Linked DNA regions of Homo sapiens: all the other regions are linked to region 3. Evidence: fine-mapped expression QTL. A gene starts in region 3. Each other region holds a variant in brackets. All regions are shown on one strand. Distances are from middle to middle.

What was found. PIP is the estimated chance that this variant, and not a neighbour inherited with it, causes the effect.
Region 1: its variant is the best candidate, but not a certain one, in a credible set for the expression of KIF13B in whole blood (INTERVAL, PIP 0.78).
Region 2: its variant is the best candidate, but not a certain one, in a credible set for the expression of KIF13B in whole blood (TOPMed, PIP 0.55).
Region 4: its variant is the best candidate, but not a certain one, in a credible set for the expression of KIF13B in whole blood (INTERVAL, PIP 0.83).

The regions. Positions count from the first base shown.
Region 1 is chr8:29,089,676-29,095,732 of GRCh38, forward strand. It overlaps KIF13B (kinesin family member 13B), which reads right to left. Exons shown (of 40, transcript NM_015254.4): 37 at 3,070-3,203. Among named protein-coding and RNA genes, the nearest start is that of KIF13B, 170 kb to the right of the region's middle. The variant C/T (reference allele first, on the strand shown) is at 3,117.
Region 2 is chr8:28,955,999-28,962,055 of GRCh38, forward strand. All of the region lies in intron 1 of HMBOX1 (homeobox containing 1), which reads left to right. Among named protein-coding and RNA genes, the nearest start is that of HMBOX1, 69 kb to the left of the region's middle. The variant G/A (reference allele first, on the strand shown) is at 3,337.
Region 3 is chr8:29,260,001-29,266,057 of GRCh38, forward strand. KIF13B (kinesin family member 13B) reads right to left here and starts at 3,070. Exons shown (of 40, transcript NM_015254.4): 1 at 2,980-3,070. The coding sequence starts at 3,034. RefSeq lists a silencer at 2,448-3,277.
Region 4 is chr8:29,187,802-29,193,858 of GRCh38, forward strand. KIF13B (kinesin family member 13B) reads right to left here. Exons shown (of 40, transcript NM_015254.4): 4 at 3,196-3,256; 5 at 714-806. Among named protein-coding and RNA genes, the nearest start is that of KIF13B, 72 kb to the right of the region's middle. The variant T/C (reference allele first, on the strand shown) is at 2,691.

The DNA.
Region 1 (6,057 bases), 170 kb before region 3:
TTGAGGTTAGGAGTTCGAGACCAGCCTTGCCAACATGGTGAAACCCCGTCTCTACTAAAAATACAAAAATCAGCCAAGCGTGGTGGCAGGTGCCTGTAATCCCAGCTACTCAGGAGGAGGAGGCAGAAGAATCCCTTGAACCCAGGAAGTGGAGGTTGCAGTGAGCCAAGATTGCACTCCAGCCTGGGCAACAGAGCAAGACTCTGTCTCAAAAAAAAAAAAAAAAAAGAAAGAAATGGTAATGTAGTGCCTGCATGTATGGTGGAAGCTGTTCTGGTGTGGCTGTTCAACAAAGCCCACTCTAGACTCAGACGTCCTTCCTCAGAGTGGCCTTTCCTGAATGTTCTACGGGAGGCCTTTGGGAAGAGCAGCCTGGGTGGGTGGCAGGGCCAGCGCCAGAGCTCTTAGACTGAAGGCGCTTCACATGCTTATAGGCTAAAAAGGCAGCTTATCTGGCTTAGTACTGGTGAGCGAATAAAGAAGAACGAAGATTCAAGGCCGGGGTACAGGCACTGCAGGGCACTGTGAGCCACAGTGAGAAATTCACATTTCACTCCTTTCAGTGGGAGACACTGGAAGGTGTCACACCACTGACGACTGTGAGGCTGTGAAAGATCATTCTGGCTACTCTGTTTAAACAGCTAAAGCCACGGAACTCAATGAGATTTATGCATGGAAGGAAACAGGTTTAAAAACAAAAAAGAACACCCCCGTTGGAGCTCTGGGCACTGGATGTAAAGACTTGATGGAATCTACAGTCCCAGGAGTGGATCGCGGACCGAGGGAAGGGAAGTCAGGCGAAGGAAGTTGCACTGAAGCCTGGAGATGTAAGTGTTTCCAGCATTATGTTGACGCCAAGTCTGCAGGATGAGGACAAGGCGGTGTGGGCAAGGGGGAGCTCCCTGGCCACCCTGAGAAAAGGGAAATGCCTTCCAAGGAGCAGAGTTCTCACAAACCAACTGGAATGTTCTGGCTTTACTACCAGGTATCTTCATCAAGACCAGTTTTAGATTTATATACTTTATGTATTTTTATTTTTATTTATTTACTTTGAGACAGAGTCTCACTCTGTCACCCAGGCTGGAATGCAGTGGCATGATCTTGGCTCACTGCAACCTCTGCCTCCCGCGTTCAAGCGATTCTCATGCCTCATAGCCTCATTCTAATTCTCATAGCCTCCTGTGTAGCTATGACTACAGGAGCACGCCTGGCTAATTTTTGTAGTAAAGACAGGGTTTCGCCATGTTGGCCAGGCTGGTCTCAAATTCCTGACCTCAGGTGAGCCACCTGCCTTGGCCTCCCTGAGGGCTGGGGTTATAGGTGTGAGCCACTGCACTCGGCCATATATTTTATATTTTTATGAAATACAAAATATTTGTATGAGGCCAGTTTTCCCAAACCTTTGCTCATATGTGCTCAAACAATAAATGAACAGACTGGAGTAAATGAATAAAAATTGCTTATGAAATCTTCTATATATTTCAAGGTAACCTCTAACCTGGGCATTATAGTTATTCTCCAATCACTACATTTGTTTCTAACACACTGTTGTTCCTCTCACTTCCAGAGAGAGCTAATCACTCGTTGCCAAAACAGTAAGAGCATAAGTAAGTTCTACAGGTAGCAGGTGATGTGACTTGCTACATGGAAAACTGAAAATAGCTTTAAAGGAGAATAGTAATGATGGCAGGCTGACTCCGTGACTTCCAACGTGATTCCAATTTCCTTCAACCTACATGACTCCGCCTTCACCAAACAGCAACTGAAAACACTGGATAGCAGACTTCACTGAATAAAAATAAGAATCACCACAGACAGGCACTTATAAATGCAGATTACAAGGTCTCTCCAAGTTAGCTATGGGTTCCCAGCGCAGGCTGAGAAACTATTTTTTAAAACAGCTCCTAAATCTGACAGTTCATGAATCACACTTTGTGAAACAATGATGCAGAAGTTTAGAACTGAATAACGTACAAAATAATGACCCACTGGTTCAGTTCTGGTGGATCTCTGGGGAAAAAAAGCACTGGGAAAAATAATCACTGCCTACCTCGGTCCCCACAGGACTTGGCTCCTGCAGTCATAGATTCATTTCAGTAACTCTCAAGCCCCACCATGTGTCTAAATACAATTTAAACAGCTGTAAAATCTTGGTTTTAATTGTTTCATCTACTGTATGTGTATGCTTATTTATATGCTTATATAAAGCTAGATTTTTAAAAATTACATATCTGCATGGCAGCCTGATAAAACTAATTCCTTCTCCCCTGAATATGCATTCATACACTTAGAAAATTCTTTAGTTAAGTCTCAGACGATTCACCTGGATTACTGCAACTTGAATGTTTAGAAGAACGTGAAGAAGCTGATGTCAAAAGACCTATTTGGACAACAGAACTTGCCCTGTATGTGTTTTTGAATGAGTATAAATAAATCCTCATTTATCATTTTCTGCTGAGTTAACACCTATATAACGCTGGAAATTGCATTTCCAATGGGGTTCCCATTCACTATTGCATAAGAGCAGCTTCCTGATTGTTTGGAAAACCTTTTCGCATTTGCTCTAACACTTACCCTAGAGCTGGGTAAAGAGTTTTAAGAGAAAAGGATATAAGACAGGTGATCACTTTTCAGTGAAAGAACAGGTTATCCACAGCAGAGAAAACAGAGGTTGAGAGGGAAGGGCACTCATGATATAAAATTGTTTGAAAAAACAAATGAAATCAAAAAATAAAAATAGAATTACATTTTCTACTTGGCAATACACAAACAATGCTAAGTGCACTTCATAAATTTTACTACCGCTGCTCTAAGTGTTATTACCATACATCACATTAGCAGTGTCCTTGGCACTTCTTAAAAGCAGAAAGGAAGGAGTGTGTCCGTAAGTTTAAACAGCTCTGTTATCTCTGAAGAGAGTGGCGGAGAAAAGACCGACAGCTGTTTCTGGGTTTAAAAACCCAGTTTAGCCCCAACCCAGAGGCCGCACCTCCACCTCCAGCTTTGGCGCAACACAGAGCACCGCTTTATTAGAAAAACGTTCACAGCTGTTTTCTCGGTGCTTTTTACCTGGTGTGCGAGGGGAGACGGCCGCTTGCCCCTCTTCTCATCGCGGA[C/T]GGGAAAGAGAGACTTGAGGAGCTTTGGCATTTGCGGCACGAAGGATTTGACAGGATTCAAGTAGGATGCTGCAAGGTTACTGAGTCCTGCCCATATTACAGGGGAAAAAGATAAAACAAATACAATTACATAGACATCTTCTTTCCTGTACATTTGACAGACATCACTTGTCAGCAAATCTAACAAAAACCAAAGGTATCCTTAAAAAATATTAGAGAAACACAGTATTATTGTAGTTTACATAATTTCCCTCAAACATAGTAATGTCTCTTTTTCAATTAAATAGCAGTAACTGGGGTGCTGCCAAAATGCTCTAGTATGCAGTGTTCCTATCAGCATCAGAACAGTAATTCACCTCTATCCTGTCACTAATTGGCACAAGCATTCACTTCTGCCCTAGAATAAAATGGGATTGGTTTTTAAGTCACACTGCCAATGACACAGATGTATAGCTCTTTGTCTAGACTTTAAGCTCTTTGAAGTCAGGGACTATGTCTTATTCAATCTAATTTTTCATAACTACTGAAGGAAGATGATGAAACTGACCTTTTGGGAAAAGGGTAAAGGGTAGTGTTTGAGTTGTTTGTTAAAAGTCAGGGAGAGACGCCCTGAACAACTTACGTTCTTACCTGCTGTTAATTTCCAAAGACTGGGATCAGAGGTACAGACAGGTATACTTATGATATACTAAGACTTCTTCCCCCTATTAATTTATAGTAAAATCTAATCCCAAGTCATAAGTGATAAAAAGCCGTATTCACACAACATTTAGAAATGAACAAGCAAGTCACCTTAAGGAATACATTTGCCTCAACAGATGCACACAACTCCCCCCAGATCTCTTCTCCACACTAACCCTGAAAGGATTCCAAACTTACTGGCAATTCAGTTGGTAAATGGATGGATACAGCTGTAAGGTTTCTACATTTTACATAAAGCAGTAGAATATTAAGTGTAAGTATACGGCAAAAAGTTAAAGATGTACATTGTAATCATGAGGGCGACCACTGAAAAATAAAAAAGCAAAGAGATGGCTATACCGAGCCGAGAGATACATCATACCTCAGTTTAGAAAAGTCCAATTATTTACAGCAAGACAAAAACAAGGATGAGAAAAATAAGAGAGGAGACAGAAAATAAAATAGGGTTAAGATGAATAAAGATCCAAAAATATACAATTATTTCAAAGATGAGGAAAAAAATTACAATCTAGAGTTCTGTATCAAATTAAACTAACATTCTAGAGTAAGGACAATCCCTCATTAAGTAAAAATCTAGCCAGTAATGAATCAAAGGCCGCACATATCACTAAATGAGACCATCAGACATTATGTGTCTCCAACCTCCCGACCACACATCCACACCCACCCACCCTACCACATGCATCCTTCTCAAATCAGCTGAATCGAATCAAGGATCTAGCTCTACCTACCAGTTCACAGGCAATACAGGGGACAGAATTGCGTTTCAACAGTCTCACGGGAACACAACAGGAAAAGTAAGAATGAACAGAATCTGCTGTGCAAGAACCTGGCCTACTGTGCCAGTCTACTCTACAAGAACCTAGTTTCTTCAACAAACACAATGCATGGTCGTGAAGTATTTCTCACCAATAAAAAATAAATGACTAATGCAATCAACAATCTGGGAAAATTTAACACGTATGGTAAGCAAAAGAGACAGACACAAAAAGGACATACATCATATGGCCCCATTTATGAAACTGCAGAAGTAATCTAGAGAAGTAGTCGTCAGAACACTGGCTGACCACAGGGAATGGGAATTAACTGGAGTCATGTCAATGTCCTATATTTTGACTGGGGTATGAATCACATGGATATATACAAATACATTTGGTAAAACATTAAATATGACCCACGGTCAACAAAGGAATCAATAAAAATAGACCATGAGATGTCTAGATACTGGATTTAACAGACAACGACTTTAAGGCAGCTTTCTTAACCAAGTCCAAAGATGCAAAGGAGAATACAGTCTTGACAAGTGCACAGACCAGGAACATCAGCGGAGAAATTAAAACTAGAAAAGCAGCAGCAAATGGAAATTCTAGAACTGAAAAAAAAACAATGACTGAAATGAAAAAATTCCCTGGATGTGCTTAACAGAGCCCTGGAAATCACAGAAAAAAATTATCCAACTAGAAAAAATAAAAAGATTAAAAAAAAAAAAAAGAACAGAGCCTCTGTGACCTGTAGGACAATATTAAACAATCTAACCTATGAGTAATTAGATTCTCAGAAAGAGCAGAGAGAAAAGGATGGGGGAAAAGTTTTAATGAATAATGTCTAAACATTTCTCACGATTGCTGAAAAACATCAATTTACGGATCCAATAACTTGATAAGCAAGTTAAATACTAAGAAAATGATAACTAAGCAAATCATAGTACAGTTACCACAAAGATAAAGAGAAACTTCTGAAAGTAGGTGAACCAAACAAAGATACCACACTGAGTGGGAGGTGACAAATGATGGCTGAATTCTCAGCAGAAAAGAAGGAGCTGGAGATGAGGAAACATCTTTGAAGTGCTAAAAGAAAAAACCTCCAACTCAGAGTTCTCTATCCAGTGAAAATATTCTTAAAACAACAACAAAACAAAACAGTGAAATAAAGATACTTTCAAAAAAGGAGAGCATTTTTCTCCAGGAGGACTGTACTCTTAAGAAATACTAGGCTGGGTGCGGTGGCTCACGCCTGTAATCCCAGCACTTTGGGAGGCCGAGGCGGGTGGATCACCTGAGGCCTGGAGTTCGAGACCAGCCTGACCAACATGGAGAAACCCCATCTCTACTAAAAATACAAAAATTGGCCAGGCGTGGTGGCACATGCCTGTAATCCCAGCTACTTGGGAGGCTGAGGCAGGAGAATCACTTAAACCCGGGAGGCAGAGGTTGTGGTGAGCCAACATCAGGCCACTGCA
Region 2 (6,057 bases), 300 kb before region 3:
TATTTCCTTATGTATGGTTACTTTTATTTCTGTAGAATTGATTCTCAGGAGTAGGATTGCTAAATTAAAGGTGTAAGCTCTTTAAATTTTAATATATATCACTATATTTCTTTCCAAATGATGTCATAATCACATTTAGACCAATGAAATATGGTAGTATGATTGAAGATATGTCTGTTAAATTTTTACTGAAGTGATATCTCATTGTTAAACTGTTATTTCCTTGACTTCTAGTGCATTTGAGTATTTTTTGAATAAACTTGATAACTTGGATCTGCTCTTTCTCTACATGTCATGTTTTTTCCAGTTTAACTGCTTAAGTTTTTTTTTTCTTCATAATAGGAAATTTTTAACGTTTTGTTTATCTTTTGAAGTTTCTGGTCTTTGTTAAGCATATCTACAAGACCTGTCATCTTCTAAATTTTGTTGTAGATGTATTACTATGATTTATTTTTTACATTTGTCTTTATTCTGCCTGATACTTATTTTTTACATATAATGTAAGATAAAAATGCAATTGTTTTTTTTGCTAGATGATAACCAGTTTTTTTATTATAATTTTAAAAAATATGTATTCTTTCCTGCTGAATTAAAATGTAACCTTTGATAGCACATTGTGCCATATGTGCTGTAATCTATAATTAAGATCTTTATTCTGTCCTGCTCATTTGTGTGTGCGTTTCTATGCCAGTGCCATATTGATTTCATTACAGTGGCTTTTGAATGTATTTCTGATTATCTGGTCAGAGAAGTCCACTTTTGGTTTTCTTCTTTTGCACAATTTTCTTAGTAGTTCTTAAACTGTCTGCTCTAACCCCATTAAAAAGTGGACAAAAGACATGAGCAGACACTTCTCAAAAGAAGACTTACAAGCAGCCAGCAAACATGAAAAAATGCTTATCATTAATCATCAGTGAAATGCAAATCAAAACCACAGTGAGATACCATCTCACACCAGTCAGAATGGCCATTATTAAAGTCAAAAAACAACAGACGTTGGCAAGGCCACTGTAGAAAGCAATTTGGAGAGTCCTCAAAGAACCAACAATGGCCTGGGCGTGGAGGGTATAAACCCAAAGGAAAATATATTGTTCTACCAAAAAGACACATGCACCCATGTGTTCATTGCAGCACTATACACAATAGCAAAGACATGCAATCAGCGTAGGTCCCTATCAACAGTGGAACGGATAAAGAAAATGTACATTTATGCCATGGAATGCTACCCATAAAAAAAGAACAAAATCATGTCCTTTGCAGCAATGTGGGTACAGCTGGACTCCATTATCCTATGTGAATTAATGCAGAAACAAAATTAAATACTGCATGTTCTCACTTATAAGTGGGTGCTAAACTTTGGGTACACGTGCACATAAAGATGAGAGCAGTAGACACTGGAGACTCCAGGAGTGGGGAAGGAGGAAATCGGGGCAAAGGTTGAAAAAATAACTGTTGGGTACTATGCCCACTACCTGAGTGATGGGTTCAGTTGTACCCCAAATCTCAGCATCATGCAATATACCCTTGTAACAAACCTGCACATGTACCCCTTGAGTCTAAAATAAAAGTTGAAAAACAAAGCCTTTCTGCTCTATTAGGTCCTATTTTTATTTATTTATTTTTACTATTGTTATTATTTTTTGAGATAGCGTCTTGCTCTGCCGCCCAGGCTGGAGTGCAGTGGTACGATCTCGGCTCACTGTAGCCCCAGCCTCCTGGGTTCAGGCGATTCGCCTGCCTCAGCCTTCTGAGTAGCTGGGATTATAGGTGTGTGCCACCATGCCCAGCTAATTTTTGTATTTTTAGTATAGACGAGGTTTCACCATGTTGGCCAGGCTGGTCTCGAGCTCTTGACCTCAAGTGGTTCGCCCGCCTCAGCCTGTCGAAGTGCTGGTATTACAGGTGGTTCATGCCACCACGCCCAGCCTAGGTCCTATTTTTAAATTGAAAGGAAAACCTTTTTGGCTTCTTTCTCAATATAGTTATTCATAAATATTGGGAAAGGCTATCCCTGTCAATGAAAATCTCTTTCCCATTCTTTTTCTAGATGTTTCCTGCTCAATTAGAGAAACTTAATTTTAAAAGTATTGTATCATATCTCAATTTAATAATTTCTTTTATTTCAGGGTTTGGTTTTATTTTGTTTTGAAAGATACCGAGGTTTTGCTATATTGCCCAGGATAGTCTTGAACTCCTGGCCTCAAGCAATCTTCTTGCCTCAGTGTCCTGAGCCGCTGGGATTACAAACGTGAGCCACTGCAGACAGCTAATTTTCAGTTTTTTAAAAATATAATTGCTTGAGTTTTCTAGACATTGTATTGCCAAATCATTGACAAAAAGATATTTTTCTCTTTTATTCCAATATTTTTGCCAGTTAATTCTTTTCTGTCTTACCATTTTTCCTGTAAACTTTAAGTCAGTGTTTACTTATAAAGGATTTAGTGGGCTTCTCACTCTAATTCCTAATTTTATTCGTTTGATTTATTGTATAGGTAATAACATTCACATGGTTAAAATAATTTTTTAAAAAAGCTTCCTATGAACAGCTTCCTTCCCATTCCTCTCCGTAATCTCTGTAGTTCCTAACCCTGCATTCAAAGTAACCACTGTTATTGGATCTCTTCCACAGATTATTTTATGCATATAAAAGTGAAATTACACACATAGATACTCTCTCTATATATATTTATTGTGTGTGCATGCAATCTTAATTTTATTTGAAATGCTTTTAGTGTTTTGCTGTTTAGAATAATATTTGCCCTTCTTATGTTTTTACCAGAGTGTTTTTTTCTCTAGTCTTCTTTTCCATAGTTTTTTGTTTAAAATGGCTAAGTTTTACTGAATGCCTTTTCAACATCTATTGATATAATCATGTAATTTCTCTGCCTTAAATTGGTTGATATATTGGATTATGTTGATTTCCTAAAGATGGACCACTCTTGCATTTCTGCGTAAATTATAGTGGTATACAATGGACCCCCCTTATCCACCGGGAATACATTCTAAGACTCCCAGTAGATGCCTGAAACTGCAGATAGTATCAGACTCTGTGTATACTATGCACAGATTTCATTTTCCTTCTTCACAGTTTCACAGAAGATTCATTCTTCTTATAGATCTTAGTAATCTCAGCATATGATTTTTTTTTTTTAACTTAAGTTGAGAGCTTTCACCTTTTCACTGAACGGAAGCACTTTTGGCTTCTGTTTGGTGTATTGAAATTGCCAGCATCATTATTCTTGAGCTTTGGGGCCATCATTCTGTAGAATAAGTATTACTTAAACAGGGGCACTGTTAGATACCAGGACAGTCAGTGTGATAAGCTAGACAGCTAGT[G/A]AGTGAGTAAGGGTCAGGTAGGGTCTACAGTGTGGATGCCCTGAAGGAGGAGCATGAGGTTTCTAAGTTACTAAGAGTGGCTCACATTTTAAAACTTATGAATTGTTTATTTCTGGAATTTTCCACGTAATATTCTCGGACCATGGTTACTGCAGGTTACTGAAACCACAGAAAGCCAAAGTAAAACAGCAGATAAAGTGGGGGACTACTGTATTATTTCTCATATGTCCTACACTCTATAGTCTAATGTGAGTTTTTACTTAGATCTTTTACATTTAATTTTTAAGTGAAATGGTATGTTCTGTATACTACCTTTATTAGGTTTGCTGTTGAATAATTCTGGCTGCATAAAATGGATTGGAACATTTCCTGTATTTTTCTATAGTTTAGTATTATTAGAATTATGTTTTTTAAATAGATTAAGTCTGCTGAGAACTCAGCTGATTTTGATGCCTCTTTCTATAGATTCTTAATTACCTTTATTTTACTCTATTTGGTTTGACTAAAGAGTTTATTTTTTGGTCAATTTTGATATATTCTGTTTTACTGGGAAATCGTTTTTCTCTTTTAGGTTTTTAAATGAATTGTCATGCAGTTGCATTTATAATTTCTTAGGGTTTTTTTCCCCCAATACTATGGCTGTATTTTTCTTTTCCTTCTGAATCTTACCAGTTTTTTTCTCTCTTTTCTCTTTATTAGACTTTCTGTGTAATTATTTAATAGTCTTTCAAAGAGCCAACATTTGGACTTACTTATGCCTTCTGTAGCTTCATTTTATATTAATTTCAAATATTATTTCTTAGTTCCATTTTTCTAGCTTATTTTGGTGTACAGTATTTTATTTTTCTATTTTTTAAGTACTATTTTTTCTTTTGACTTTTAAAAATGAGCCACCGTGCCTGGCCTGGATTTTTGTTATGAAGAACAATCCTCTTTTTTGTCACAGTGTATTGTTATGTTGGTCATAATTTCTTTTGTGGTTTCTTCTTTGATCCAAGGGTTATTTATGATTATCTTGTAGTTTATAAGTAGTTATTTTTGTACATTTTTCCCTAGATTGTTTGGATTATATATATGAAATTAAACCTTTTGTTTTACCGTGTTTGTGATCAATTATGGTAATGGACATAGGGAAAAAAAAACTTCTTTGTTAGAAGGTTTACAAAGTATCTTTTTATCTTTAAAATTATGTTTATTGATAATATATCAAATTTCTGTTTTTTAAATTTTCTCCAACTATATTTGTTCATTCTAAAAGGTATACTGAAATAACTCATGTTTATACTTTAAAAAAAAATTATTAAAGTAGTTATGATTTTTGCTTTATTACCTCTCATGTTATTTGGTCTTTGTGTTTGTAACTCTTATATCTTGGTCATAAACTGTATATTTTATAATTGTAAACTTATTCTCTTTTTCTTTTTCTTTTTCTTTTTTTTTTTTTTTTTTTTTTTTTTTTTTTTTTTTTTTGGAGACGGAGTCTTGCTCTGTCGCCAGGCTGGAGTGCAGTGGTGTGATCTTGGCTCACTGCAACCTCTGCCTCCCGGATTCAAGCGATTCTCCTGCCTCAGACTCCTGAGCAGCTGGGACTACAGGTGCATGCCACCATGCCCAACTAATTTTTGTGTTTTTGGTAGAGACGGGGTTTCACCATGTTGGCCAGGATGGTCTCGATCTCTTGACCTCATGATCTGTCTGCCTTGGCCTCCCAAAGTGCTGGGATTACAGGCATGAGCCACCAGGCCCAGCCTCTCTTTTTCTTTTATAGGTTGCTTGTTTTCTATGGCCAGGTGCTTGAATGTGATCCAGCATCCATAAATTTATATCCCTAATGCCTTTTAATATAAAGTTTTTATTATAATGTTCTACTTTTTTATTGTGTTGAAATATGCATAACATAAAATCTACCATTTTAACGTATATAGTTCAGTGGCATTAAATACATACAGTATACAGCAGTCACCACCATCCATTTCCAGAACATTTTCATCCTCACAGATTGAAACTCTGTACCCTTAAATAATAACTTCTCATTATTCCTTGCCCATTTTACCCACCATGCTACTTTCTGTCTCTGTGAATTTGACTACTCTAGGTACCTCATGTAAATGGAATCATATAATATTTGACCTTTTGTGATTGGGTTGTTTCGCTTAGCATCATGTCTTCAAGTTTCATTCATGTTTTTGTGTCAGAGTTTCCTTCCTTTTAAAGGCTGGGACAATATTCTGTTTGTATATATATCACATTTCATTTATCCATTTATCTGCCAGTGGACATTTGGGTTATTCCCACATTTGGCTTTTGTGAATAATGCTGCTGTGAACACAGCCTGATTCCACTTCTTTTGGATAGATATCCAAAAGTGGAATCGCTGGATCATATGGTAATTCTGTATTTAGTTTTTTGAGGAACTGCCATACTGTTTTCCATAGTGGCTTCACCATTTTGCATTTCAGCCAGCAATATACAAGGATTCCATTTTCTCCACATTATTGCCACACTTGTTATTTTATGTTTATTTTTATAAATAATAGGCATTCGAATGGGTGTCATTTTATTTTTTTTTTTTTTTTTTCTTTTTTCTTTTTTTTTTTTTGAGACAGGGACTCATCATGTTGCCCAAACTAGCCTTGAACGTGTTGCCCAAACTAGCCTTGAACTCCTGGCCTCAAGTAATCCTCCTGCCTCAACCTCCTAAGTAGCTGGGATTACAGGTGT
Region 3 (6,057 bases):
TGAACTTTTTTCTTTTTCTTTTTCCTTTTGTTAGTGGAATGTTAAAATAAATGTATGACTAGACAAATATTTCTGACAAATTAGCCATTACAACTCTTCCTGTTACTGAATTAGGGCCTAATGCTTAACCTTCAAATAACTAAGGTTCCCAAACCCACATACAGTTTAGCAGAAAGACTAAAATACTCTCACTTCGAGGATAACTGTTAAATAATAAATCAGCTAACCACCTTAAAACTCCAAACACCTAAGCACAACCACTGAATCACACAAGAACTTAATACACCAGAGTTTTCTGGAAATTTTCAGATTTTCCTCAAAAGATAGCTAATGTGATTCCAAATATCAGAGTCTACACAGTAAAACTACATCATCACAGTAACCCATTCTCATCCCCGTCCTCTTTTATAGATAGCGATTTATAAGGTTGCTTCCGGCACCTATATGATAGAAACTATTAGGACTCAAGTTTTACTCTTTGTCATAATTATACAGTATTACATAATACTAATAACTGTTCAAAGTAATATTCTTTTCAAAATTACTGGAAAGGTTCCTACAGATCATACAAGGAAGAAAAAAAAGGAAATTACTGGAAAGAAATATGGTTTTGTTTTAGTCTTTTTTTTTTTTGAGACAGAGTTTCACTCTTGTCGCCCAGGGTGGAGCACAGTGGCACGATCTTGGCTCACTGCAACCTCCGCCTCCTGGGTTCAGGCTATTCTCCCGCCTCAGCCTCCTTAGTAGCTGGGATTACAGGCGTCCACCACCACGCCCGGCTAATTTTTTGTATTTTTAGTAGAGACAGGGTTTTGCCATGTTAGGCAGGCTGGTCTCGAACTCCTGACCTCAGGTGATCCACCCGCCTCGGCCTCCCAAAGTGCTGGGATTATAAGCGTAAGCCACCGTGCCTGGCCTGTTTTAGTCTTTTTATACAAACTTTGGACACCAATTTTTAAAAATCACTGGATTTACAATCCCACCACACTGTATTCCATAATAACCTTTATATTTATGTGAACAATTACTTCATAACAAAAATGGAAAAGAACAAATTTATGTGTGGTAATCACTGAAAAAAGAAGTCCACATGCACGTCAGGAAATATAAGGCTAAGAATGGGCACTAAGTGAACACAGGAGGTACTTTACACCAAATAATGCACTTCTCTATATAGGCTAATGGAATCTATGGGTAAACCTCAATTTCAAAATGATTGTTGAACCCAAGGATCAGCTCACATCCGTTCCACAGCTAAAACTATTATTCTTTGCCTTCCTCTAAACTCTGATGTTTATTACAACCTTATCAATGGCAATTTATAAGAGAAAAGCATAAGAATTTCCCTCAAAAAGTGAAACCAATGGGGAAAGGGAGAGGGAAAGGGCTCTAAATATCTGAGATGTCTTTTGTGGTGGTTGGTTAGCGGCCTCTTTTTAGCACTGACATTTCCAAGTTTTTTGTGAAAAGGAAATTTTAAGAATGTGCTGAAACCATCCTTTCAGAATCAATTCCCAGATAAGTTATGTTTCATTTGGCTTCTTTCTTTAAATTATTGTGATGGTAAACTGGAAGTAAACTGAAATACAGATACCTGAATATTTAAAAACTGATGCTTCTGAAAATTTTCAGAATTGTATCGACGTTTATTGTGTGTTGTCAGAGCACGAGATTAGTGAAGCAAAGCAGGACTCAATCTTGCACTAGTTGAGAACTTAAAGTAATTAAGTTCTTAGGGAAAAAAACTCACCTGACAGCTTTAATCGGACCTAGCAGGAACAGGACAAAACAATTCCCATAGATGAGATAACTCCAAGCGAGAAACCAATTTCCCCGAGAAGGACAAACCAACAAAGCTTATGTCAACTGGTTGATCTGTATGTCTCAATATATACAAAAGAAAGCAAAGAAGAGGAAAACAACCTATAATTTCTACATAAAAATTAAACAACACTTGATTTTGCTAAGAAGCTACAACTTTGTCTCTGGTACTTAAATGATTCTAATTAGTTCAAAGTCTCATCAATGGCAAAGTCATCTCCTGAGACAGTAATAGTGACCCCCAATGACAGGACCTTGTATATAAAGCGTTTTCAAACACATTATCTTATTTAAAGCAACTCACCCAGTCATGCTGCTTTGACTATCAAAGCCAAGACCCAGCCCACCTCCTCCCCTGACTTTTGGGGTTCTCTCCACTCCCCGGGTCTACAGATTATTTAAATGTACTCGGTTTATCTGCCTTCTCTACACTCCCTGCAGAGTTAAGAGAATGTCAGAAAGATACAATTCCACAAGAATCTTGGCACTTTAGCTATTTATTGAGAGATGATGAATGAGACTTCAGGCAAAACCAAAACTTTCTCAACTGTCCAAAAACAACGAAAAGGGCATCTCCTCCACCTGACCCCAATCTCAGGACGCCCAGGTGGAAGGAACTCGCCGCGGGGCACCCGCCTGGCCCCCTGCCCTTCTTCCCGCCGCGGGCCAAGGCGGTGCAGGCTTGGGCGACCCGGGCGAGACGCGGGGTCCCGGGGGGTCCCGGGCGGTCCCGAGGCGGGCTGCAGGGGCTGGCGACCCGCGCGCGGGGGCGACGATGACAGCTGGCGGGGAAGGAGCGAGGCTGAGGGGCCAGGACGAGGCTGGGCGCGAGGGCCGAGGGCGCCCTCGGGAACCTCCGGGGGAGACGAGAGGGCAAAAGGGCGCAGGGGCGGGGCGGGCGCAGGCGGAAGGGGCAGCGGGGCCGGCACGAGGGGCCCGACGGCGCCAGGGACGGGGCTGGCCAGGGGGGAAGGGAGGGGAGAAGAGGGAGCCGGGCGTCTCAGCGCGGGAGCGGGTTTCAGGGTCCCCGGGCCCCTCCTCGCGCCCCGCCGCTGACTATAGGGGCGGGGCCGCCGGACCCCCCACGGCGGCCGAGGGAAGGGCGCGCCAGGCACCTGCCGCCTCCGCCCCGGCGGCCCAGGAGGGCTCGGCTCTCACCTCGCCGGTTCATGGGTCGTATCCGCACCGCCACTTTCACTTTGGAGTCCCCCATCCTGCAGCCGCCGAGGAACTCGTTCGGCTTCCGTCTGCCGCGGCCACCGGCGACTCTTCGGGGTTGACCCGGCGGGAGGGGGCCGGGGGCGGAGCCGGGGGTGGGGACCGGGCTGGGGGCGGGGCCGGCGCGAGCTCCGGGCGCTCCCCGCTGTATGGCGGGACTTGTAGTTCCCCAGGGTCGTCGTGGGCGGGGCCGCAGCGAAGGCGGGGGCGGGAATGCTCGGGCGCGAGTCGTTTGCTACAACTTACCTACAGCAATGACGGCTTTTGTAAATTACACACCATTCTTGCTCTCGCAGCCAGTATTGAGAAGTAAGCCTTCAAGAGCTGATACCTCTTCTGAAAAACAATTGAATAGATGGCGTCAGGGACCCCGCTACCTCTTCCTGCTCATTTCCTGCCAATCTTAGTGTTTGATCCCTGGCTCAAGTTATTTCCTCTGCCTGGATTGACGTCCGGCCTTGTTTGCTGAGCTCGTCCTTCACGACAAGTTGCAAATCACGTTTTCTGGGAGTGTCCATAGGTCCACGGGTTAACATTGTCCTGTGAGTCCCCCTCCTTTGAGACAGGACCTTGGGCTCTGAAAACCATCTGAGTTCAAAGCCCACCTCAGCGCTTCCCACTGTGTGACCAGGGGCAAGTTATTTGACCGCTCTGGGCTTGTCTTTAATATGAAAAGTGGATATGATACTAATACCTAGTAAAATAGGTACATTTTTAAATAAGATTAACATATGTGTAACCTAGCCTTTAGTAGAGACCCATAAACATTAATTGCATGAATTAATGAATGAGGCCACACTAAAATTAGCTTTTTATTAGCCCTGGCAGACATTCTAACAGGTGGCCTGGGTGCCAGAGCCAGCACGCAAACATGTTCTGTTTGGCCCAACAGTGTTGGCCAACACATAAAAATCAGATTTGTGGCCAGGTGCAGGGGCTCACACCTGGAATCCCAGCATTTTAGGATGCTGAGGCAGGAGGATTGCTTGAGGCCAGGAGTTTGAGACCAGCTTGGGTAACAGAGTGTGAAATCAGATTTGTGCATGCAGTACTGGGCCTACATTACATATTGGACAGAGTGGATTGGAACTAAATAGCAGCAGCCACCTTTATCAGAGACCCGTCTCTCCACTTCACCACGGCCCCCCTCCAGGTGGCTTTACCACACATGCGCCTGGACCTTGTGGGTTTGTGACCCCTGCTTAGATGTGTTTAAATGATAGTAATAGAACTCAGAACCATTTTACAGATGAGTAAATACAGAAAGCTGGTAAGACTTGCCCTTTTACCAACCATCCTGTTATTGAGTATCTTCAATACAAGCAATGTTGTCAAAAAGTATAAAAATACTTTTTTTTTTTTGAGATGGATCTAGCTCTGTCACCCAGGCTGGAGTACAGTGGCATGATCTCGGCTCACTGCAACCTCCACCTCCTGGCTTCAAGCGACTCTCATGCCTCAACCTCGACAGTAGCTGGGATTACAGGCATGTGCCACCAATCCTGGCTAATTTTCATATTTTTAGTAGAGACGTAGTTTTGCCATGTTGACCAGGCTGGTCTCGAACTCCTGACCTCAGGTGATCCACCCACCTCAGTCTCCCAAAGTGCTGGGATTACAGGCATAAGCCACTGTGTCCGGTCTAAAAATACCTTTAAAAGAAAGGAAATTCTGAAACATGCTGCAACATGGATGATGGGCCTTGAAAACATTATGCTAGGTGAAATAAGCCAGACACAAAAGAACAACCACTGCATGGTTCTACATATATGAGATACACATGGTAGTCAAATTCATGGAGATAGAAAGTAGACTGGAGGTTACTAAGGGCTAGGAGAAGGGGGTATGAGGAGTTAGTATTCAATGGGTGCAGAGATTCGGCTTGGGAAGATTTCAGCTGCGGAAATGAATGGTGGTGATGGTTGCACAACAATGTAAATGTACTTAACGCCACCTAACCACTTAAGAGTGGTTAAGGCAGTAAGGTTTTTTGGGTTTTTTTAGAGACAGGATCTCGCTCTGTTTGCCCAGACTGGAGTGCAGTGGTGTGATCATAGCTCACTGCAGCCTCAAACTCCTGGGCTCAAGCGATTTTCCTGCTTCAGCCTCTCACCTAGATGGAATTACAGGTACGCACCACGACACCTAGCTAATTTTTATATTTCATTTTTTGGTAGAGATGGAGTCTCGCTATGTTGTCCAGGCTGGTCTTGAACTCTTGGCCTCAAGTAATCCTCCTCACTTCAGCCTCCCAAAGCACTAGGATTACAGGTGTGAGCCATTACACCCAGCCAAGATGGTAAGCTTTTTGTTGTTGTTTGTTTGTTTGTTTGAGATGGAGTCTTGCTCTGTCGCCCAGGCTGGAATGCAGTGAGTGACATGATCTCTGCTCACTGCAGTCTCTGCCTCCTGGGTTCAAGTGATTCTCCTGCCTCAGCCTCCAGAGTGACTGGGATTACAGGTGTGCACCATCACACACAGCTAATTTTTATATTTTTAATAGAGATGGGGATTCACCATGTTGGCCAGGCTGGTCTCAAACTCTTGACCTCAAGTGATCCACCCACCTCAGCCCCCCCAAAATGCTGGGATTACAGGTGTGAGCCACTGTGCCTGGCCAATAGTAAGTTTTATGTTACGTGTTTTTTATCAAAATTTCAAAAAAGGTTAAAAATAGAAAATGCTACCCCAGAAGGCCCTCTTTTTTAAAAAAGGAAATTTCTTTCTTAGGGGCACTGCCTCTGCACTTCAGGAGGTCTCATCTAGACCAGCAGTGGGTTTAGTGCAGCAGGTCCTTTGATTTTCACAGCCCAATAAAGTAAACAACATCAGGATAACCAAATTAGGATTGCCAATCTCAGTGTTTGACACTATGACAGCTTCTTAATTTTAGCAAGTATATATTTTTTTGAGACAGGGTCTCATTCTGTGCCCAGGCTGGAGTGCAGTGGCACCATCTTAGCTCACTGCAGCCTCAACCTCCCAGGCTCAAGCGATCCTCCCACCTTAGCCTCCCAA
Region 4 (6,057 bases), 72 kb before region 3:
TCTGTAAAAAGTTTGCACATGGGAACTCGTTATGACAACCCTACAAGAAGGTCTATGATCATCAGCCTTTCCAGATAAGGACGCTGAAGGGCAGAGAGGTTAAGTAACTGCCCAGGTCTCTCTGCTGGCCAGCTGCAGGAGCAGGACTGGAGCTGTCGCCGCCTGGCCCCAGCTTTCTGCCCTTTCAACACGACACATGAGGCTTCTTGAAAATATCCAACACATTCTTCTGTGAGAACATTTCTAGTTGGACAAGCTGTATACTTTACTCTTACAAAAGTAACTAGTTCACTTCAAATTTTCTTTTCTTGACCACAGAGACTCAAAAGCCAAAAAGCTTCTTAGTTATTACTGGTGAGATATTAACAAGTATGTTCTTTTTGGTATTTTATCTGTTATGGTTCTGAAAGCCTTAAAAAAGCATGATCTATAGGCATGGCTAGTAATGTGTTCAACAGTCATAGCTCTGTATTTTTTCGAAAAACAATGCTGCCAGTGCCTTGTGAGAAAAATCAGTAAAGATAAAAGATCCCAATCCTAATTTTATTACACTCATTTTAAAATAATGTTACTGACTACTTTCAACATCTACAGTACTTTCTGAAAGCAAAAACAACAAGGAATAAATCAGCAATGTTACTCAGTAAAATAAACATGGTTCTATTTTCTTTCATTGATGGTTGTTTATGTGATTTCATGTTATTTAACATTACCAGTCTGTCCATAGGCAAAGATACATGCATTGTAGCCATCAAAAGCATTCTGCAGGATATTCTCTCCAAGGCACTTGAAAACAATATCTTGACCTGAGAGAGAGAGAATAAGAGAAAAGATATTTTAAGCCAAAACTACATATGAACAATTCACAAAACAAAAACAAAAATCTCAAAAATGTATAATCTGCTTATTTATCTCCAAACAAGATTTTTAAATTTGACGAATGCTCCCAAAGGCTTATGCCTTCCAGGTTATTTCTAGTTAGCACATGAGGGAAAATCAGCTCCCTGTAATACATGCTTGAATAAATAAACACGACTAAGAATCCCCTGCAATGCAGAGCCAATGAGCTGCTCACTTTATAATCAATGATTATAAATATCTGAAATTTATACTTGGGACCCAGGTGTACCTGGACTTAACTATTTACCACTCAGGCAATGCTTTTATTCGGTGGGTACCAGAGTTTAGAATAATCATATATACCAACCCCCTCTCCTTTCCCTCAGTGACAATTTCTAATTACAGGATCTACAACACATACCAGTTAGGACAGGGAGTCAGAGCCTGGAAATTTCCCTCAGCTTTCAATCATGGACATAAAGAACAGAGTCAAATTCTCCCCGACAGGCCAAATGAGATATGTCACTAGTCAGTAATTGAATGTGAATCTGACAAGTCACCCTACCTCACTTAGTCTCAATACCACATGGAAGAACTGGATGCTTTTATGTTATGGCAAGGGTATTCCATTATGTCTCATTTCCTTTTTTTTTTTTTTTAATACCAGTTAACTTATACTTCTGATATTGGGCCACCTAGACCAAATGAATCTTAACTTCAAAACAGCCATAATATTCATCTTTCTCATAACAGAAGCCAAAACAATATGATGCTTAATATTTAAAAGAGATTGTTTAAAAACAGGCGACAAAAGCAGTAAGGAATAAAGGCAATCAAAGGCTGTCACTGCAGTCCTAAACTTGTGGTGAGATGGGGCTTGAGACAGTCATCATTTAGAAGAATAATAGAGTAACAGACTTCCAGAGCCAAAAGAAAATTTAGAGAGAATATGGCATATTCCTTTCCATCAAAAAGAGAAAACTGAAGCTCTGACAGGTGAGGTGATTTACTGAAAGGCGCAGGGGCGGTAAGAAGCAGGGCTGGGCCTGCAGCCTAGGGTTCCTTTTCTCCTTGGCCGGTGCTCCCCTTCTTTCACTATGCCATCCTGTCTCTCCAGCCCAGTCTCAGGCCTCCAGGGCAATCTAAGGGGCGACCTTGTGCTCCCGGCCTCATGTAAGAGCTGGGGCGTGTGAATGTGGAATAGCCACTGTGTGTACTAGTGATGTAATTTCATCAACGTATACCAAGAATGGCACACAGTGAATCTCCCATTTTCCAATCAACATTAAAAACTCTAATAGCAAACACGGGAGGGTGTTGTCTGTACTTTCTACAGTTATGCAAAAGAATCCTATGGTACTCATATATATCCTATGGTAATTATAGAGATGTAGGTTACCATCCGCAGTTCCTGGCTCATTAACCCTTGTTGCAGTCTTTTACATGTTGGGGCATTTTAGCCTCAGGAAACTATCTGATCTCCTGCCCTCCTTTTACCTGCCGGAGGCAAGACTCTCATCTGATTGTGGGTCAAGAGCTTCTCATTCCACAAGGTCTTGCCTCATATCCTAAAGGAAGGAATGCTACACAGAATGGCCAAGAAAAGTCTGAACAGACAGGACGTGCTGTGTTCAGTCATGCACTTTTTGTCAAATCACATTTCTAATCGGTTGACAATCATGCCTATATAAGGAAGCCTCCATAAAAACCTAAAAGGACTGGGTTCAGAGAGCTTCTGGATTGCTAAACACACAGGGCCCAATAGGAAGGTAAGAACTCATCCACACGCCGGGAGGGCGCCGCGCCACCTCCATGAGGACAGAAGCTCCTGCGCTTGGGACCCTTCCAGA[T/C]CTCACCCTCTGTATCTCTTCATCTGGCTGTTTACCTGTCTCCTTTAAAGAAAATCCCTCGTAATAAACCCCTAAACACAAGTGTTTCCCTGAGTTCTGTGAGCCGCTCTAGGAAATTAATCAAACCCAAAGAGGAGGTTGTGGGAACCCTAATTGGAAGCCAGTAGGTCAGAAGTTCTAGAGGCCTGGACCTGCGCTGGTGGGAAGGAGGGAGCGGTCTTGTGGGACTGAGCCCTCAGTCTGTGGATCTGACGCTGTCCCCAGGTAGAGAGCATCGGAACTGAGTTAGAGGACACCCAGCCAGTGTCTGCCGCTTGGGGTGCAGGGAAAACTCCCCCAACATTTGGTCACATTAAGTCATCTTCTGTGTTGATGACTGTTATTGTGGTGTGACAGCAGAGGAAACACACAGTTTGGGGGGTTTGCCAAGCAATCGTGTAAGGGAAAAAATACTGAACCCCTCTTCTACACCATCAGTAGTTGACAGGATGCTGGATTCTATTACCTGCATACTTTTCTTTGACAGATTCATCCATAGACCAGAAACAATGATCATAAGCAAACACCTGTTGAAAATGAACATAAGTGTGTGTTAAGAAAACCTCAACATTACTTATAAACCATAACTGATAGAACTGTTCATAATAGTGAAATAAAACAACTTACTGTCATACAATGGGAATTAATTATGTATGTAGAGGCTTACAATGAGAACTAAACATGCTATAGGTGATATGACTCTATATTTTACATGGAAAACTATTCACAAAATGTGTAATAAAATGGCTATTGCACACACACATGCACCTACAGTCACACACACAGAATTACATCTATAGTTTATTTTTTTGCAGCGAAATTAGTGATCTGTTTCATGTTTTTATATTTTTTCAATATTTTTATTTTTGTAGTCAAAGAAAAAGATATTTTTTAAATAACATTTAAAGATGCTCACTATAGCATGTCCAAAATAGCTTAAAATAGCAGAATGTTTACATAAATTATGACATGCCCATGTGCAAGTATAGATTTGAGGGTATAGAAGACTTACTAATTTAAAAAAAGTTTATGTTAATGAAAAAGTTATAAAAGTCTAGAGTATGATTCCATATTTGTACCAAAAAACTATATGCATAAAAAGCAGGAACAATCTGTATTAAAATGCTACTTGGTGGGATCTTACAGATGATCTGTTTTGATCTTTCACCTTATCACCACTTTCTAGAATATCACATAGTTCTTTTGCACTGTTTGAAAAGCTTCTTTTTCACTAATTATTTCTTTTTAAACCAACTAAGCAAAGGCAAATTTTTCACTGACTGCATCTTTCACTTTTTCGATTTCTGTCAGTTTGAAATCTACTTACTTGTGTTTTGTGATTTTTATCTCCGTAAAGATTTTAAGTGCAATTGTTTTAAAATGTATCTCGGTTCACATTTTGTCACATTCTCCCACTTTGGGAGTCTGTTGCTATGCTTCCTGATGATGGTTTGCATGTTAGTTTGCAGGTACATCTTAGCAGGGAGTGTTTATTTTATGGTTTACATGATTGCTTATTTTTTCCTCTCCTGATGGCCACCTTTCCATGACTAGTTTATGCTGTCATTTCCATTACTGAAGCCCAGATTTTGGGTCTTCTCAAGGCCCAATGTCTCCATCCCTTCCTATTAACACAGACATTAGCTCAATGTTGGTGGCCAAAAACTGACTGTAAGCTTTCACTCACAGAGAAGGCTCGCCCAAATCAGTTTTCACATGGTGAGCCTGGCTCCAGTCCCCAACCATACACCAGTGCCCCCATTAGTCGGCAAGAGTTGAACTTCCAATCACCTCCAGGCACCTGGTCTGATTCCAAAGCCCTGGAAATATGTCACTTCAGCCCTCGCTTACTGCTGGTCCTTGAAGTTATATATGTTGTTGTTGTGTTTTTCTAGTTTTGTGTAGAGATGGGGTCTCACTATGTTGCCCAGGCTGGTCTCAGACTCCTGGCCTCAAGCAATCCTCTAGCCTCAGCCTCCCAAGTACTGAGATTACAGCTGTGAGCCACCATGCCCAGTCTAAATTTGTTTTTGAGTTTGATTACATGATTCGCACATTCTAAAATATTTTATCTATCTCTGCTATAATTTTGATGTTGGCAGGAGAATGTTTCTGTGTAAACTCACAAGATTATCTGGACCAGAAGTCTAAAAGGTTAATTTTTTTAAGAAAGAAAATTAGGTTAAGATGGTAAATTAATAATGCATACTGATATCCATCACCCAGCTAAAATTAACTCAAAACGACAGGCGATGGGGGAAGTGGGGAAATTGCCAAAAAGGAAGAGAAGGGGGAAAAAAGAACAAGGTTTTGAAACCAAGAGTGCTTGCTTGTGCCTGGATCAGAATTGAGAAACTCCTGAAAAAATAGTTCCAATGAAACTGATGGGGGTAAGGGTGGGGGCCTGCAGGGAGAGCACAGGCTGCAAAGCCAGTGAGCAGTTCTGGGAGGTACCAGAAGGGCAACTAAAGGGGGAGGCAGATAACCCTGGCAGCAACCGAGAGGACGACTGGCTCAGCACCTCTGGACAGGTGAGGATCGGCACACCTGCATCTCTGTGTGAAACAGCAGGCAGGGGAGACACCTGTTCCCTGGATGGGGCTGTGAGAAGGAAGCGAGGCCAGGAAGTGAAAGCAGACCCCCAGCGGCTGACAGCCCCTGAGAGCCCTTGGGCCCAGAAGACATCATCCAGCTGCAGTGTTGTGTTACACACTGCTCACCCTCCATGTTTTTCCAAAGCTAAAACGTATATCTATCAGCAGTGGTGGCTCACTAAGCCATTTTCAAACACAGAGGAGCAAAAGGAGGAGGATGGAAGATGGCCCCAAAGGACTGGGCATCAAACTGGGGGGAGCTGCCTTGCAAACTCCAGGTGTCACCCATAGTGAGAATCATTACAGCAGAGTAGGAGTAAATAAAATGTGGAGCTCAAACGAAGTTTCTCCTGTTCTAGCTTTCCACGCTTATCTCCATAATTTTATTTAATTAATTCTGTTCTTAATAAGGCTAAGTAAAAACCATCCTGATTCTTGTAAGCTTAGTTCTCACTTCAAAAGCCCTATCACATGTGTATACAGTCATCCCTCAGTATCCTGAGTGGGACTGCTTCCAGGACCTCCCATGAATACCAAAATCCACAGATGTGCAAGTCCTTATATAAAATGGTGTAGTATTTGCATAAAACCCACACATATCCTCCCATATACTTCAAATCATCTCTTGATTACTTAAAACACCTAAGACAAAGTAGATGCTATGTAAATAGTTGTCATACTGTACTGCTTTTTACATTTTTACTTTTTTTTGAGACGGAGTCTCGCTCTGTCGC